Linked DNA regions of Homo sapiens: region 2 is linked to region 1. A link means that fine-mapping ties the variant in region 1 to the expression of a gene that starts in the linked region. Tissue or cell type: whole blood. Region 1 holds a variant in brackets; the other region holds the start of a gene. All regions are shown on one strand. Distances are between the middles of the regions.

Region 1 (9,260 bases):
CCCATATGTTAAATTCCAAAACTCAAATTCATAGTCTTTTTTCCCTTTGATGCACCACCCCCTCCCCACCCGCAAAGCAATTAGTTTTAAAATAGCACTCTTAAATTCCTGTCCTATTCTGTGATCACATGTGACCTCAGTTCATGCCTGGGCATTTTAAGCGATCTCCCAGTCTTTTCATCCATGTTTCATGCACAGTAATGCTGCCAGATTTATTTGTGTGTTCCCTATTTTACTAATCCACCTGCTTTAATAGTTGCTCAAAAACATTCCATGGCTCCCATGACTAACTTTAAATGCCAACCCTTTTAGCCTGGCCCTGACTCCCTTTCCAGCCTCATCTTTCACTGCTTCCTCATACAGTTCTTGTTCTTCAGCCAAACAGGACTGCTTTTCATTTCCAATACACGGCTCTCTTCTCCTACCTCCATTTCCTCATTCATATTCTTTCCTGTTCTTGTAATGCCTTTCCTCCCATCTTCACCTTAAGAAATTTTATCCACCGTTCAAGATGTAGCTCATGCTGCCACCTTCCTGAAGCCTCCAGCCAGAAGTTTCTTCCTCCTCACAACTCTTTGACACTCATCCTAATAATGCCCTAATGGCACTTATTACCTCCCCACACGGCCTACTCAAAGATGCTATTTAATGGGCAACATTTCAGGGTTGCTTTTACTTTGTTTAATCCTGAAGCAGCCAGTAAACTGCACAGAGCACAGAAACCAAATACGGAGGCAGGTTGTGGGGGAGGAAGCAGCTCACACTGACTCCTTGTATCTAGAGGCACACTGCAACTCAGTGACAGGGCCTATACAGAATGAGATGTCTCACAGAATTGTAGACTCAATAACTTTTATAACCCTAGGCTCTTCACCATCCAGAAACAATTTATACTATACATAAGGCAACAGTTTTGCCACTCTGGAGTCACATCACCTAGGCCTAACATCCAGGTTCCAGCCCTGGAAACGTGTGCTTTGCATTTGGGGCAGGGGCTTTTTTTCCAAATCCCTTCACATCCACTTAGTCGTTCTGCGGCAGGCCTGGCCATGGCCCACCACATCATATACGTACTTGTTTTACATTTATTTGTGAATACATCTGTCATCTCATGAAATTATCAGCTTCCCAAGAACAAAAATCTTTTCCTCTTTTTAATTTCTTTTCTTTTTTTCTTACTTTTCTTTCTTTTTTTTTTTTTTTTAAATCTACAGGCCCAGGAACTTGAAAAAATCTTGCTGTATCCCTCATGGCACAAAAGGAAGTGTTACATTTGAAATTGAAATTATAGTCAGTATATATATAGTTAAATGAACATTTAAGAAATAATTGTTGACTAGATTTTTCTGGATCAAGGAAAGGGAGAAACTTATGTATCACTACATACATACATTCTGGATCAAGGAAAGGGAGAAACTACTTATCACTACAAACATGAAGTACAGCCTTCAGTATAATGAATTCTGAGAGATACTGTACTTTTGATAAAATTACCTTACTATAGTTTTATGCCTGCAGTTTAGCTCCAGACCAGTGCAAACATCACAAAGATGTAGCCCACCTCCTCATGGGACAGTGGTCTTCAGCTCCACATACTATTTTGCAATATGTTTAAAGAAATTAGAAGACTCCAAACATCAAGTCACTAAATGATTACAAATACCAGAAAGGAAGGGGAAGCACGAAAGGGAACAGGAAAAAGGGCTTTCTCCAGACTTTGCCTTTTTCTTCAGGAAAGACCACACTCCCTAGAAACTTCCACCTACATGTTGACCAGAACTGTGTCACAGGATGATCCCTAGCTGCAAGGAAGTTTAGAACACAAGTATTTTCGGTTGGGCTCATTCGCAAACAAAATTGAGGTTCTGTTGTTAAGAATGAAGGGGAAACCATGGATATAAGGTAGACAAATAGCAATGTCTGCCTCATATATCAGGAGGCAAAATACTCTCATGCTCTAATAAATAAATATCACATATTTGTTACCAACATGACATTATGTGCTGCCTCAACATTTAAGTCATTGTAAAATATATTCTTCTTTTACAAAACAACTTAGTTTAACATTCCATGGAACAGAAATCACCATCAGGGTAAGTATACTCAAATGTTGCAAAAATAAATCTTACATTAATCAGAATTTAGGGGCACGCCTGAGAAGAGTTCTAAGTTCTCATTGATGACTTTGATTCAAGAACAAGTAATAAAGATAAGATTCAGTATTCATACCTTCCTTGAAGGCATAAACATGAAAGGTTTTCTTTGAATGACTTTAGTCATGGCCTCCTTGGGATTCTCTGCATAGCACTGAGCAGAAATAATACCTCCCAGATCCTCCATGTAGGGCTTGTCGGAATCTGTTTCTTGCCTGTATCTCCCAAATCACTTCTCTCATCACCTAACACAGTCCCTTTCCTAATGCCATATCAAACTCTTAGCAGGTCTCTGAGCTCACCACTCTCAAGCTTCCAGGCCTTACCTAGGTTTGGCACATACCTCTCTCTCCATATTGCATCTCCTGCCCCTCTTTTCATCCACTGCATTTCAGCCACACTGGTCTTTGCCAACTTAAAAACACAAAGTTCATTCCCCACTTAAGACTTGCAACAGCTCCTCCCTCTGCCTGATATGATCAACCCGAGCTTCCCACACTTGCCATTCAGATCTGAGCTTAAATGACACCTACCTGAAGAGGCCTTCCTACTCTCCCACTCTTCCACTCTCCATTCTAAGGTCGCATCCTCACCCCACCTACCACCAGCACCTCCACCCTGCTTATATTCTCCCAAAGTACATCGCACTACTTAATATTTTTTGGCCCAATTATTTTTTGTCTCTTCTACTAGAATGTTAGAATTACAAGAAAGAGATCCTGTCTGTTTTATTCACTATTGTATCTTCAGTACTGGAACAGTACGTGGCACTTAGATATTCAATTATTTTTTACTGAATGTTTACACCACTCCTGAGAAGAATAAGCGTAAGCGAAAGAAGGTGAAGCTGGCTGTCCTGAAATACTGTAAGGTGGATGAGAATGGCAAAATAAGTCGCCTTCATCTAGAGTGCTCTTCAGATGAATGTGGTACTGGAGCGTTTATGGCCAGCCACTTTGACAGACATTATTGTGACAAATGTCTCATTGCTTCAGCAAACCAGAAGACAATTAATTGTGTATGAGTTAATAAAAGACATGAACTAACAAAACACATTTACTGAATGAATAAATGTATTAATAATTAAATGTCACTCCTCTGCCTAGAACATCCTTCCCCACGATCTCCCCATCATCCTTTAAGTTACTGATCCTCGGTCACTAATCCTGGGCCCCCCAAATTGTCTGATTTAAATGTCTTTCTTTTTTGTTCTTGCAGTGCCTTCTTTAGACTAGCATTAATTATATGTATTGTAGGGTTTTTTTACTTCTTTTTTTTTAATATGTATTGTAGTTCTTGATTACTTGTCTGTTTTCCCCTCAGACATGAGATACAAGCTACATGCTACTTGTGGGCAAAGCCCAGTTTTGTCACTTCTGAAACACACATGTAGCACCTTTGTGCAAATTAGAAACAGAACACCAAGTCTGATGAGTGTTTATGGGCTGGAATCCAGTCACCAATCTCTCTTCAGCAGGGAACAACCTATACATCTGTACATAGTGGCCCAGTAGACAATAACTGTGTTTTTAATTGAATGAGGGAGTCAATTTCCTCTGTATTTTAGCAGTTTTCTTAAAAGCAAAGGAACTAATGTGGGGAAAAGGATGAGGCTAACATTTATTGCAAGTCCACACTGCCACTGTTCTAGACTGTTTTCACACCTCTCATGTAATTCTTACAACAACCCTACGCAGAAAAGATTAGTTTTACCATTTTGTGGATGAAGAAATGAGCTTAGAGAGGTTTTGCAACTTCCCCAAGGTCGTACCATTGGTAAACAGTGCGTCTGTTGTGATGAAAGCCTAGGCCGGCCGGGCGGGGTAACTCACACCTGTAATCCTAGCACTCTGGGAGGCCAAGGTGGGCGGATCACAAGGTCAGGAGATC[G/A]AGACCATCCTGGCTAACACGGTGAAACCCCGTCTCTACTAAAAATATAAAAAATTAGCCGGGCGTGGTGGCGGGCGCCTGTAGTCCCAGCTACTCGGGAGGCTGAGGCAGGAGAATGGCATGAACTCGGGAAGCGGAGCTTGCAGTGAGCCGAGATTGCGCCACTGCACTCCAGCCTGGGTGACAGAGCGAGACCCTGTTTCAAAAAAAAAAAAAAAAAAAAAAGAAAGCCTAGGCCTATCTGATTCCAAGTTTGCCTCTGGCTGGCTTTGGTCATATGGGAACCTGAGTGCTTGTTCCTAGGAGTCATGGGTTTTCTTGTTTGCTTTTTTATAATTTCAACTTTTAGATTCAGGGTATAATGTACAGGTTTGTTACATGGTTATATTGCATGATGCTGAGGTTTGGGATATGAATGATCCCGTCACCTAGGTAGTGAGCATAGCACCCAGTAGTTTTTCAACTCTTTCCCCCTCCATCCCTCCCGCCTCTAGTAGTCCCCAGTGTCACTGTTGCTTTTTTATGTCCAGAGTCATGGGTTTTATTTGCAATGCTGCGAGAAAAGGCCCCTTGAAGTTAAATTTTGCCTTGTTCCCCTTTTTTTTAGAGTCTCTTCACCCCTAGTATCAGTATACAGGGGACATTCAGTTGTTGACTGCCTGATGAATGTTTGCCAGTGTAAGTTTTTTCTGATATTTCTAAAGCTTTAGCAGAACTTTATTATTAAATAGTAATGTTATTCCATCAAATAATTTTTTACATGGATTATCACTTGTTGTGTTTTAGATTGCATTGTTTTCTTAATATGTTTGCAATTTTTGTTTTATTGCCAAGAATGGTGATAATACAGCATGCTAAATTTGAGATCCCTGTTTGTTAAGAAATGATTCGGCGGGCAAATTTAGTTAGAACTCTTTAAGCCTTAAGATATATTTTGTTTGCTTTTTTCTTTTTGTTGTGTAGAAGATACTTCTTTGTGGTTTTCAGTTTTGAAATTACATACACTTTCTGTAATGAAATTTCTGACAAAAGACAGTCAGTGTTTAATTGTCTTCTAAAATGGGAATGTTGCTTATCTCACAAAGCTGCAGTATTATCAATAATAAAATATGAGACTGTGTTAACAGGGTACTGTGAGCCATAAGTACCATAATACACACAGCCAAACTAGGATAGTTATGACGCATTATGTTGGAAGAACTTTTTATGGCAACAGCGTAAGTAGGAATTATCTTTTTGTTGAACATAAAGAATATCAGTGGACTTTTCCATTTGGATATCCTGACTCTTCATACCAAACATAACCAAAATCAACTTGTTCTTTACCAACCTCTCTACATTCTACAACTAGTTTTGTTTTTTTGTTTTTGTTTTTGTTTTTTTGGTGGGGGATGGTGTTTGTTTTTTGGGTTTTTTTTTTTTTTTGAAACAGAGTTTCACTCTTGTCACCCAGGCTAGAGTGCCATGGTGCGATCTCGGTTCACTGCAACCTCCACCTCCCGGGTTCAAGCAATTCTCCTGCCAAAGCCTCCCGAGGGATTACAGGCGTTCACCACCATGCCTGGCTAATTTATGTATTTTTAGTAAAGACGGGGTTCATCATGTTGGCCAGGCTGGTCTCGAACTCCTGACAAGTGGTCCACACACCTCGACCTCCCAAAGTGCTGGGATTACAGGCATGAGCCACCACACTCGGCCGTTTTTGGGGGGCTTTTTTTGAGATGGGTCTCCCTCTGTCATCCAGGCTGGAGTACAGTGGTGCCATCACAGCTCACTGCAGCCTTGACCTCCTGGGCTCAAGCAATCCTCCCGTCTCAGCCTCCTGAGTAGCTGGGATACAGACGCATGTATCCCAGCTAATTTACTTATTTATGTTTGTAGAAATGAGGTCTTGCTGTGTTGCCTAGGCTGGTCTCAAACTCCTGGGCTCAAGCAGTCCTCCCAAAGTGCTGGGATTACAGGCATGAACCACCACACCCAGTCTACAACCAGTTCTTGTTCCCAGCTTTCTCCGTGTGGTAGTACTAATCTTACGGCCAACCACCAGAGAATCTTAAATAGTTGAAAATTTCTTAAGGGGTAACCTACTTCAGACTCCTGCCTCACCTGGGAAACGACTGACAACATGATTAAGATCCAAGGCTCTAACTCAGTATTCCAGGGTTCAAATCCTGGCCATACTATTTGCAATGGATTCTTGAGCAAGTAACTTCACTCTTCCATGCCTTGGTTTCAATGTGATTAATGATAGAACCTATTTCATGTGGTTGGAATGAGGAATACATGAAACAATACAAGTAAAGTACTTAGCTCAGTACTCAGCACATAGTAAACAATGTTAGCCATTAATATTAGTCAACAGATATTTATCATTTTTTCTTAAACTCTGACAGTGCTAGAACTCACACAACTCTTCAGGGAAGCTCATTCCAACAGTGGATATTTGTCATATTTTGAAAAGTCTCAATTCCTTCAACAAATATTCCTCAGGTGTCCACTATATACCAAGCATGTTCTAGAGCATGAGAACAAAGAGATGACTGAAAACAGTGTTTGTCCTCATAAAGTCCCTAGTCCAGCAACAGAACTCAGTACCAGGTGGCCCGTGGCTGTCCGTCCCTCTCAGCCCATTTGGAGGTGACTCTTGCTTCTCTCTTGATGGATCAGCTTTCACTGCCCACCCCCAGGGACATGACCAAAGAGGTTCCTCCTCTCTACCCCTAAGCGGTGAGTCCATAGGCTCCCTGGAGAGTTCAGTCATCTCTTCTGGAGCAAGTCACCTAGCAGCAGTGAACCTCCATTTCTTTATCTCAAAAATGGGAGTCAATAATCCCTGCCTTATTGATGTCACTGGATTGTCATAAAAATGACATCATTATGTAAAGGTCTTTGTAACCTGCCACGTACTCTATAATGATGAGATACTCCTTATATTAAACCAAAGAAAGAAATGACTCTGCTAAAGATGGAATTTTAGACATCAGTAAGCAAGGGAAGATCTTTTGGCTGGGAGCTGATAAAGTGGTTAACAGGAGAAATTTACTAAGCCCCAGATCAGACTTATAAGGACAAGACTAGACTGACTCAACCAGGCCTCCAGCATTGCTCCTAAAAATCTTATTGGAGGCCATATACTGTGCTGGAGGGTCACCGAGTTTTAGATCCAGACAGACAGAACTAGAGTCAAAATGCCTTATCAACCACTTACTAGTTTGGTGACTGTGTGCAAGTTCCTTAATCTAAGCTATATGAATGAGGAATGTATGAAACAGTACATGTTAGCCATTAATATTAGTAAGCAGATATTTATCCATTTTTTTCTTAAATTCTGCGAGTGCTAGGAATCACACAACTCTTCAGGGCCGCTAGTTTCAACACTGGATAGTCATCATTTTTGGAAAAGTCTCAGTTCCTTCAACAAACATTCCTCAGGTGTCCACTATATACTAAGCATGTTCTAGAGCATGAGACAAAGGGATGCCTGAAAATAGAGTATTTGGCCTCATAAAGTTCCTAGTCTAGCACGAGAGCTCAGCATTATTTGTAAATCAGATTCTCTCTCCTTGGAATTCAGAATTAGAACTGAGAGACACTCAAAGATTCTGGACTGTCTTCTGAGCAGAGAATAAAAAGTAGCTATCATCTGCCCACCACAGACATGAAAAAACAAGAAAGACAGTTTGCAGAGAGGAGAGAATGAAACAGGACTGTAGAGAGAAGCAGAGACAAGAAATGGATCTTCCCATCTCGTCATGAGCTTCCACTTCCAGGTAGGCAGAACTACCAGAGACTCAATTGAATTCCTGCCTTAGGCTTCCAGGGAACATCCTGAACTTTTTTTTTTTTTCTGAGATGGTGTCTTGCCTCTCACCCAGACTGGAGTGTAGTGGTGCGATCACAGCTCACTGAGGTCAGGTAACCCTCCCACCACAGCCTCCAAAGCCGCTGGGACTACAGGTGTGCACCACCATGCTCGGCTAATTTTTGTTTTTGTTTTTGTTTTTGTTTTTTTTAAGACAGGATCTCACTCTATTGCCCAGGCTGGAGTGCAGTGGCGTGGTGTTGGCTCACTGCAACCTCCGTCTCCCAGGTTCAAGCAGTTCTTCTGCCTCAGCCTCCCAAGTAGCTGGGATTACAGGCGCACACCACGAACGCCCAGCTAATTTTTGTGTTTTTCGTAAAGACAGGGTTTCACCATGTTGGCCAGGACGGTCTCAAATCTCTTGACCTCATGATCCACCCTCCTCAGCCTCCCACCAAAGTGTTGGGATTACAGGTGTGAGCCACCCTGCCTAGCCTAATTTTTGTATTTTTTGTAGAGACGGGGTTTTGCCATGTTTCCAAGGCTGGTCTGGAACTCCTGGACTCACACAGTCCGCCCACCTTGGCGTCCCAAAGTACTGGGATTACAGGGGTGAGCCATTGCACCCAGCCTGAACTTTTAAAATAAATTGTTTCTTATGCTCAAGTTAGGTCCAGTCAGTTTTTATTTCTTGCAAACTAGGATAGTTTACAGTTTCTCCTTAGCACTCCTCTGTTTTTTTGATTAGTGTCTCTTGGAGTTCCAGAAAACTGTCCAGGCATTTGCAAGTGGGACTTTAAAAGCCTATCTTTTACACTCAGATGAAAGGCAGTAGGAAGTAGGAACAGATTCTCTAACACTTTGGAGGCATGTTAGCACCTTTCTAAATTATGGAGAATGAGTGAACTGCCAAATTTCATTCATCATTACTGATATTTATTGTGAACCAATCCAGCCAAAAGAATTCTGAACAGACACTTTAAAAACCTATGCCAAACTGAATTGACCGTACCAGGCTTATCACATTTAAATATTTATTTAAAATAGTCTTTAAATTATAATTATGTTAATTGTTTTATTAAAATCAAGAGAGAAAACTAACCATTTATCAAACTGCTGAGACTGCTAAAAGATTTATCAGCCTTATATAAATAAGACACACTTAGTAAATATTTTCATTCCATTCAAGAAAGGCTTTTGTGACCGAGTGCCGTGGCTCACACCTGTAATCCCAGCATTTTGGGAGGCCAAGGCAGACAGATCACTTGAGGTCAGGAGTTCGAGACTAGCCTAGCCAACATTGGGAAACCCCATCTCTACTAAAAATACAAAATTAGCTTGGCATGGTGGCGAACGCCTGTAGTCCCAGCTACTCTGGAGGCTGAGGCAGGAGAATTTCTTGAACCCAGGAGGCA
Region 2 (9,260 bases), 37 kb before region 1:
TGTCTTAACACTGAAATAGCAGAACATGAATTTTTGTGTGTGGGGAGAGGGAATATAGAAGTTAAAGGCTAAGAGTGATAGAAGTTCTATTACCCTTTCCCAAAGTAACCCAGGAGTAAAACAGAGCTGGTTGTGGGATACCTATGCTGGGTGGAAGACTCAATTGAATGCTCTGGGATATTTCCCTGGAAACTTCTTTTATTATAGGAATAATCAGTTAAGCCTACATCCATTTAAACAAAAATGGCCCTGACCTATTTTGGTTTTTTAAAGCTGTCTTCTGGATGGATATGCTCTGGAAGCAACGTTCTTTTAAATGCTTTGCAGTTGAACTGAGAATGCAGCTACATTTTATCGACAGCTTGGTTCACTCAAACCAAGAATTGACTGCATTTAATCACCGTTTTGCAAGATCTAGTTGCCTAATAACACCCAGATTATTTGTTGCAGTGAATAAGCAACGCAGAAACCTGGGGTAGTGGAGATCACTGGATTACTTTTTGCATACTCTCCTACGTTGAATTGGTCCCACTCACTGTGCCACTTGATTATGGACAGATGGGTGGCTTATGTCCCATGCCTTATAAGTACATCCTATGCCATACGCTTCAGCCACTTTTGCTTCCTAATCAAAGCAACAGCATAGGGCTGACACCTAAACTTCTACTGCTATTGAGACTGACAGCAATAAAAACAGATGAAAATTTGAACTTATTAAAATGAAGAAAAAAAGGAGGAACTTGGAAAGGATTTAGACAGGAAATAATAGATATAAAATTGGAACAGTAAGTTTAGAGTGCATATGAAACAAATGGCAAGTGAGCAATTAACACTGGTGTTTGAATGTCAGCATTTAAGCTAGAAAAGATGGCACTCAGAGTGATCTGATAAAGCTCATTTATAATATTTAGGAGGCAAGATACACACTTAGTATTTAGCAGATTTTATTTTGCTCCCCCCACCCCCTTTCTCCAACCCTTAATTGCACAATTTGTAACTTGTAAGTAGAAAATGCTCTGGATTGAGCATTCTCTCAGCAATCTGCTATAAAACAACACTCCTGTGGGAAGTGGTCCCCATCGGTAACCTAGCCATGGTCACTAGGAGAGGGATGAGCCAGCCTCCAGGAGTCCAGCTCTGCAGGCTCCACCCCTTTCCAGGGACAGAAACGCCACAGGATCTCAGAATATTTGAAGTCAAGAGTTCAAATCTCGTGTAGGATCCAAGAAAGCCCATAATCCTGTCAAGTATTCAGAAAACAAAAGCAAAATTGCCCAACAACAAATAACATTTCCAGTGCCAACCTCTTCCTAATGCCCCCTCCCCCTCCACCACACCCACACATCCAGTCAGCAGTGGCTATTTTTAGGTAGCCTAGAAGCTAGGAAGGGCTGCTGTGCCTTCCCCAGCACACATACGGAACAGATGCTGCGATCCGGCTGGACAGAGGTTTAGTTTGTTTAAGTCATTTATGGAATCCACCACATAAAGCTTTCCATCTTCCTGAATGCCACAAGAACCAGTGTCCTGGGAAGAATGAGTCATTGTCCCTGGAAGAAAACACTGATGTTAAAAACAAGAGGTTGGGCTTGTGAACTCAACTTCACAAGAACCACAGCCACCAGGAAGCCAGACAGGCCTATGAAGAACCACCCACAAATAGTATTTTCAACTAAGGCTCTAGAGAACTTGGCTTATCCAGAAAAAAATATTTCCTTCTGTGGACCACTTTGTAATCGTTCTTTTTGCTTTGCTTGCCAGGAAGCTCACAGTCAAATGTGTGGCCCAATTTTAAGAATTGTACATCCATGTATACCCTGCTTATCTGCAAACACTCTTTTCTCCTCCTCAGATGTCTCAGTTCTGCCTATATTTTCCCTGGATCTGTTTTTATTTTGTAACTAATTTTAAAATTTTTCTTTTATTACATTGTTCACATTCTGGTGAGATGCCTCAAATCCTTTGTGCAAGAAGACTAGGTAGACAAAATTAAGCTAGTCAGCAGTGGCCACAAAACATTCTGAAAAAAGAGAATATTACCATGAACCATTCTAATTGCAGGAGGCTTTAATAGAAAATTGCAATTTTTATAGCCTCCCTCCATATGGCATGTAAGTCCTTCTCTTCACACAATTCCTTTAGCCATAAGATGCTGACTGTGAGTCCCCAAGACAACAATCTTAGCAAACTTAGCTGCTATAGAGAGGAATGCTGCTAGACTTCAGGACCTCTGAGATCTCTTCCACCTGGGTTTCCCTTAGACTGAGGTCACTTATGTAATAGCTTGAGGTTTATTAAATATTGAAAGTAATATTCTCTAACGACAGCACAACTGCAAGCAACACTGAAAATCCTGAAGAGTTTAAAAGGTTTATGTGGAGATGTATCTCTAGCACAACAGAGAACTTGTGGCCATTTAATTATGTGAAAAGAAGCCTCTAGAAAGACAAATTTCAATTACTATAAAAGCTTTTCCTTTCATGGTTATCAAGTCTAATCGTGATAGAGGATGTTTGGATCTAGAAAGGGTGTTAGATGTGCTTTAGTTCCCATCCTTTCCGCAAATGAGGAAATGGAAGCTCGGCGAGGTAAATGCCCAGGATCACACATTTGCCTGGCAGCAGAGCTGGAATCGGGCCTTTTGTTCAGCATTCAATGAGTCTTGCTTTGTGCTACTTTTCTTTTCTATATCCCTTCCTAATCCTGCCTCAAGACTCAGCTCAAACATCACTTCCCCTAGGAAGAGAGAACCAACCTGTCTTTCCTTTTGCCTTTGCTGGATTCTTTACATTCTTCTATCAGAACATCTGTAGTATTTTATTGCATCTATTTGCTTACATCTTTGATTTCCCGATAGACTGAAAACTCCTTAGAGTAGGGACGAATCCTATTCTTCAAATGCCCAGTGCCAGGTTTAGAAGTTGGTGACTTATGTTAAGATGGAACACCTGAAATGTTTATTTAGGATTTAAATCTCACCATTTTCAAAAGAATTGGAGGCAGTTAATAATAAGTACATGAACAGAAATAAGATTGAGGATAAAAATCCTCATGTGATGTCTATCTGGACTCTAGTAAAGTCAATGCGATAAATATGGTGCCTGTGTGTATTTGACAACACACTGTTTACTTTCTGTTGTTGCAAAAATTTCCTTTAAAACTCATCTACAGAATGAAGAGCAATATAGAGTTGGGAGAAACCAAATTCATAAAAAAAAAAAAAAAGTATACACCTAAAGAAGATGTGGGGAAAAAAAGTATCAGACACTTACTGAGCAATTTAAACTTAGTCTAAAATATTAAAAAAACAATTTCCCAGTAATACCTAAAACTACTGGTACTTGTGAAAAATGTGCTACCAGAACCCTAGCTAAGAAAGTGAGCTCAAAAAGTCATGGACTAAAAATTTTTTTTAGGGTTAAAACTAAAAAAGTGTGTTTCACTTATCTTGAAATTTTAATTAACAAGAACAAACAATTCCCTGAGTTTTCAGATAAGATACTACCATAGCACTTTATTGACATTACTGAATTCCAAATATACTTCATAGAGCATTCCTAAGGAAATGACTTGATATGACAATTAAAAAAAATTAAAAAGCAGCAGCAAATAGAGTAAAAGGGCCTTAGAGGTCAGTCAAATCTTATCCTTTTGCAGTTAAAACCAAGGCCCCAAAATATTCACTCATGCATAGTCACAGATTTTAAAACAATTCTTTTAGATGTGTTTCATATTTTATCATCCATTTATACTAATATTTGACCAAACAGTAATATGTGACCAGGAAAAAAAGTTTTATGTGTCACATCACAGGACCACTGTTCTGCACACAGCTTCTATTTTAGGTGTGGTAACTGAAGCATGGTTCATTTTTGGATCTCTGACTTAATAGCCTTGAGCCTTAGCTTCCCCTTCAGGAATGTATCTGCTGTTGCTTCAATTTCATACTGAGGCTTAATCAATGTTTACAAAATAGAGACCTAGCTAGAAAATCATGGCCACAAAAACTGACTTTAAGAGTACAGCTAATAAAATCTCCATATTACTGGTCTTGCTATCTACTCAAAAGGTGACTCCAAAAAAAACTAAGACAACAACCTAGTGAGCCATGACGTGCTTTGAAAGAAAATGTCTTCTTTAGAGTGAAGTCACAATGTAAATATATGCTATTCCAATATTTTTTTAATGAGCTGCAACACGCAAATGGAAAAATAAAGAACTAGCAGAGAAAACTGAGTTGGGTGCTGTTCCAGGGCTCCAAGAGCCTGCAAATGACTTGCAAATGACTCATGAGGCTGCTAGTAAAGGGATACAAGATCACATGGCCTTAAAACCAGGCCCCACGGCTGTTTGACACCCAGTAGTTGCTATCTTTGGCATCTCCAAATGAGGGCATCTAGGAACAACCAGCAAGGCTGGAGAAGCCAGTGTTACTAGCAATTCTTCATCACACTAACTTGACCCTCCTTTCAACTCCAGTGTGCAAATTTGCTTATTCACCAAGATTGGCTAAAGCAGCATCCCTTTAACAGAACCCTTTCTTATACCTTGACTGGAAACATGTAAGTAATTTCATTTTCCTCTGGTTTAGATCACTGCTAACAGTTGATTTTTTGTCATTTAAGAATTCTTTGACTATTTACAAATAAATATTCCAACAAATAAAGATAATTGTCTATGAAAAATTGCCTGGTGCTTTATTTTTTAACCAGGCAGGTGCTTGGTATCAAACCACAGAAATAACTCACACCAGTATTGCTTGCCACAAAATCAGAATTGTTATAATAGGGCATAATTCAAAGCTAATAAGCAGTGTTATTGAATGAGTCATGGTAATTTGTTCTTTAATTTCATTTCCCAGTCAATGCCTCTTCACATTCAGGAAGTAATTTTTAAAATCAAGTCTAAATCATTTCTATCAAAAATGAAAAACACAGAGCACATGCAACAAAAACTTCCCAGACTCGAGAATCATAATTCAGTCTCAGTAGAGTAATAGCATGCAAATTACTTACAAAAATGTGAGCTTTGACTGCTAGGTTACCAGAAAAACAAAACAAAACAAAACAAACAAACAAAAACTAATTGTTCAGAAGCAACTACAACAAAACTTTTCTACAAATTCTGTAGTTCTCTCTTTGCCTTTCTTCAGCATACGGGTGCTCCTATGAGACCCATAAGCCCCAGGATGAAACTGTTGGTCTATATTGTGTCAATTTAGCCAAGCAGTGTAAGATTCCAAATCCTGACTTTTTTCATAATGTCTAAGGTTTTTAGTAAATATATTACTAAAACTATGCTTTAAAAAGAAAACAACAAAAAAACACCATGCCCTGATTTAGTTGGTAACTGATGAGGTTTTTATTGGACTGAAGTTACCGTCCTTATCTGGCTGAAGCAACTGTTAGCTGACACCACCTTTCCAGCACTCCTGCCATGGTATGCTTCCATATATAAATATCCTGTAGCAGGCGGAAGCTGCCACTATGATGACTGACTTGCAAACACTCCAGACAAACCAGAGAACTGCAATAAACACGGACAGAATATGATTATGACATCATAACAAGGATGATGGCAGGTCAGACGCCTAGTGCTTCCAGTAGCTACAAAAAGCGATTGTGAGTGGGCGATTTCATGGATACAGACCCACCACAGGTGAAGGAAGCACTCCATCTCATCGGCCGCCTTTCCTTTACAAAGGCTTTGTTCTGTGAGTGTCTGCACATCCTCCTTTCTCAGGAATAACAGCCTTCCATATATGTGGTTCCCTCACATACATGCCAAGGAGCTTCTGCCCTCTGCTGTACATAAAAGATGCTACAGTGATGAGGAGACCAACTATCTCAGCAGGATACTAACAGTGAGGTTGTGAACAACTGTGCAATCCTTTATCATCCTCACTTCCATTGCCATAGCTTGATGGACATTATTCATCTTTGAAACATTTTTCATGTCAGTGAGAAAATAGGTGTTCCACAAAATTTTCTTTGAGACAGAGTCTTGCTGTGTTGCCCAGGCTGGAGCGCAGTGGCATGATCCCAGCCTACTGAGACCTTCCTGCTTCCAGATTCTCCTGCCTCAGCCTCCCAAGTAGCTGGGATTACAGGTATGTGCCACCATAGCTGGCTAATTTCTTTATTTTTAGTAGAGATGGGGTTTCACCATGTTGGTCAGGCTAGTCTTGAACTCCTGACCTCAAGTGATCCACCCACCTCGGCCTCCCAAAGTGCTGGGATTACAAACTTGAGCCACCATGCCCGGCCCAAAATTTTCTTTACACCTATATCCCATACGGACCTCACTCTGCTTTGGGGGAAGAGGAATGTCATTTTTTTTTTCCCTTCACACTACCTAGTCTAAGAGGGAATGTCATTTTTTCAAGCCTCATCTGTACCCAAAGACTAATTCTTGGAGGAAGACAATATAACTAGTAACTTTTCTCAGAAACATACGTTAAAAAGCTATGTCAAATTTCTCTGAATAATGAAAATGTTCATGTTAGCTATTATGCTGTTTTTAAGAAATCTCCCAACTACCTGATCTGCCTTGAGCCATGTATCCTTTGAAGATATAATAGAAGTAACTGCCTCATTTTGGGGCGTTTACTACTTTTCCTCTCCTGTAACTTCTAACTTTGTGGAATATTAACTTCCCCTGAAGGAGGAAGGAAATGGAGACTAAGGAATTTAATTGTTGAGGGATACACTGATTATAAGTGGCAGAGATGAGATGTAAACCCATACCTCGCATTCAAGTCTGAATTGAACTATACACCAGTGAGGGGGATAAGACTGCCTTTAGACCAGTTAGACTTCTGGAAAGCCACTTAAGAACAAAGCAAGACAACCTACTTCATTTTAACTATAACATACCTGCAAGACCACCTTTAAGAAGAGTTTTGGGGCCGAGTGCGGTGGCTCATGCCTGTATTCCCAGCACTTTGGGAGGCCGAGACAGGCAGATTAACTGAGGTCGGAAGTTCGAGACCAGCCTGACCAACAAGGAGAAACCCCATCTCTACTAAAAATACAAAATTAGCCGGGTGTGGTGGCACATGCATGTAATCCCAGCAACTCAGGAGGCTGAGGCAGATTATACCATTGGACTCCAGCCTGGGCAACAAAAACGAAACTTCATCTCAAAAGAAAAAAAAAGAGTTTTGGGTCACAAAAAGAGATATTCTCACATGAAGTGTCTAATCTAGGGACATTCTCAAGTATTTGCTTTTTCTTTCATATATTACATCTCAGGGTATCTAAATTCACTCCCAGGAAATTTAGTACCCATCAAAGAGGAGTCACAGACAATGAATACTTCAAAATGCTTGAGCCTCAAAATAATGAAAGCGGGCAAAATTAATCAAGAATCAAGCAATGAACAACTAGTCTATAACACAACATTTTTCTACTTTCAAGAAAACACAAGCATTCTTACACATTGAACACCCAGCCACCCTTGTCTAGCAGTTACCACAAGTTTCATGAATAAAGTCACCTGCATATAAATTCAACATGCAGATTAACACTCTATACCTTCTTCCTCCCAAAAGCCCAGTAAAAAAGCAGGAGTACAAATTACAAAACCAGAAAAATTAAAATAGGAAGAAACAATACTGAAGAGCTCAATAAATGTATTGAACATGGTAAGAAGAGTGGTATCTGCCTTAGCAGGGCTATCACAGATGAGTGACAGTAGGACTGATCCTGCAGAATTCAGGCAGGCCTAGGATTTAGAGGCAAGAGTGTGGCATGGAGCTACACAGAGGCAAGTAATTTAATGCTAGCCAAAAACAAAATGCAATACAAATTGGAAAATTGTCTTAGAGAAATATCCCAGACAGAAAAAAAAAAAATAAATAAGGCCCAAGATTCAATTTGGGAGCTCCACTATGTCATAGAGTTCCAGAACAAAGAAAATGAGGAGGAAGAGAAGAGATGAAGAACTTAATATTTTCCAGGTTGCCAATCCCACCAAAGCACAGTATCATGCAATTTTAGAACACTAGAAACAGAGATGCTGAGAAAACAAAGAAATAAAAATAAAAACTGCATCAGATATCTCAAGATTTTGCAAATTAGAATAGAGCAATGCCTTCAAAATTCTGAATTTGAATACACTTGTCAAAATTTTCAAAAATTCCAAATTTGATTTTCCACCTAGAATTTCCATGCAAACTATCTTTCAGAAATATGAAGTCACTAAATAACTGACTGATCTCTCACGCACTCATTCCCAAGAAACTACTGAAAGAAGTGCTCCATGTTAACAAAGAAGTAAATTAAGACATGGGATCCAGAAAATGAGGGATACAATTCAAGAGAAAGAAAAACAAATCCTCACGATAGTGCTGTCTCAGGAAAACTGCTATACAATTGGATGAGAGAAACTAGTCTAGATTGAAACAAGTACAGAATCAAGAAAAGTTGTGACAAATTTATTTGGGACTGTTTGGGAAGAATCAATGATGTGCATAAAAAGCCAAAAAAAAGAGCATTAACTCCAAGACAAAACGTTGTATGAGAATGAAAATGTAAGCACATTAAATTAATTCACGAGTGAACATACAAGTATGATCACAGCTATGCAAACAGGTACATGATCTAACCAAAATAATATTAGAAGGATGTGAAACAATAAAAGAAATTTTCACCTGTCTTAATAGTAAGTTGACAAACACCTAAAAAATAAATGGCTGTATAATCATATTATTTAGAAACCTAAAACCAAAAACTGAAGGCTGAAAGAACCGAGCTAGAAAAAACTGAAGGCTGAATGTCTCTTGGGATGGGACTGAGGAATAGGAAAGGATGGAGCAAGGGGCTTTCCTTATTAGCCTTGAAGTACCATTAAACTATGTTCAGGCTGGGCACGGTGGCTCATGCCTGTAATCCCAACACTTTGGGAGACCAAGGCGGGCAGATCACTTGAGGTCAGGAGTTCAAGACCAGCCTGGCCAACATGGTGAAACCCCATCACAACTAAAAATATAAATTAGCCAGGTGTGGTGGAACACACCTGTAATCCCAGCAACTCAGGAGGCTGAGGCAGGAGAATCGTTTGGACCCTGAAGGCAGAGGTTACAGTGAGCCAAGATTGCGCTACTGCACCCCAGCCTGCGCAACAGAGGGAGACTGTCTCAAAAACAAACAAAAACCTATGTTCATACAACACTTTAATAAAAATTCATTATTTATTTATAATTACATGTACATACATATATGCATTTGAATATCTAGAAGAAACTACCATTTGCAATC

Alleles and levels. Alleles are on the strand shown, and positions count from the first base shown. SD is a standard deviation of normalised expression in the study named.
As copies of A replace G in region 1, the expression in whole blood of the gene that starts at base 5,371 in region 2 goes up (small effect, 0.15 SD a copy in GTEx).

What was found. PIP is the estimated chance that this variant, and not a neighbour inherited with it, causes the effect.
Region 2: LSMEM1 starts here. The variant in region 1 is fine-mapped to the expression of LSMEM1 in whole blood (GTEx, PIP above 0.99).

Annotation. Positions count from the first base shown.
Region 1 is chr7:112,440,071-112,449,330 of GRCh38, reverse strand. LOC105375457 (a long non-coding RNA gene) reads left to right here and starts at 5,981. Exons shown (of 3, transcript XR_001745325.2): 1 at 5,981-7,026; 2 at 7,618-7,813. It also overlaps a transcript of IFRD1 not described here. The variant G/A (reference allele first, on the strand shown) is at 4,044.
Region 2 is chr7:112,477,102-112,486,361 of GRCh38, reverse strand. It overlaps LSMEM1 (leucine rich single-pass membrane protein 1), which reads right to left and starts at 5,371. Exons shown (of 4, transcript NM_182597.3): 1 at 5,016-5,371; 2 at 1,419-1,550. The coding sequence starts at 1,545. It overlaps IFRD1 (interferon related developmental regulator 1), which reads right to left. Exons shown (of 12, transcript NM_001550.4): 12 at 9,159-9,260.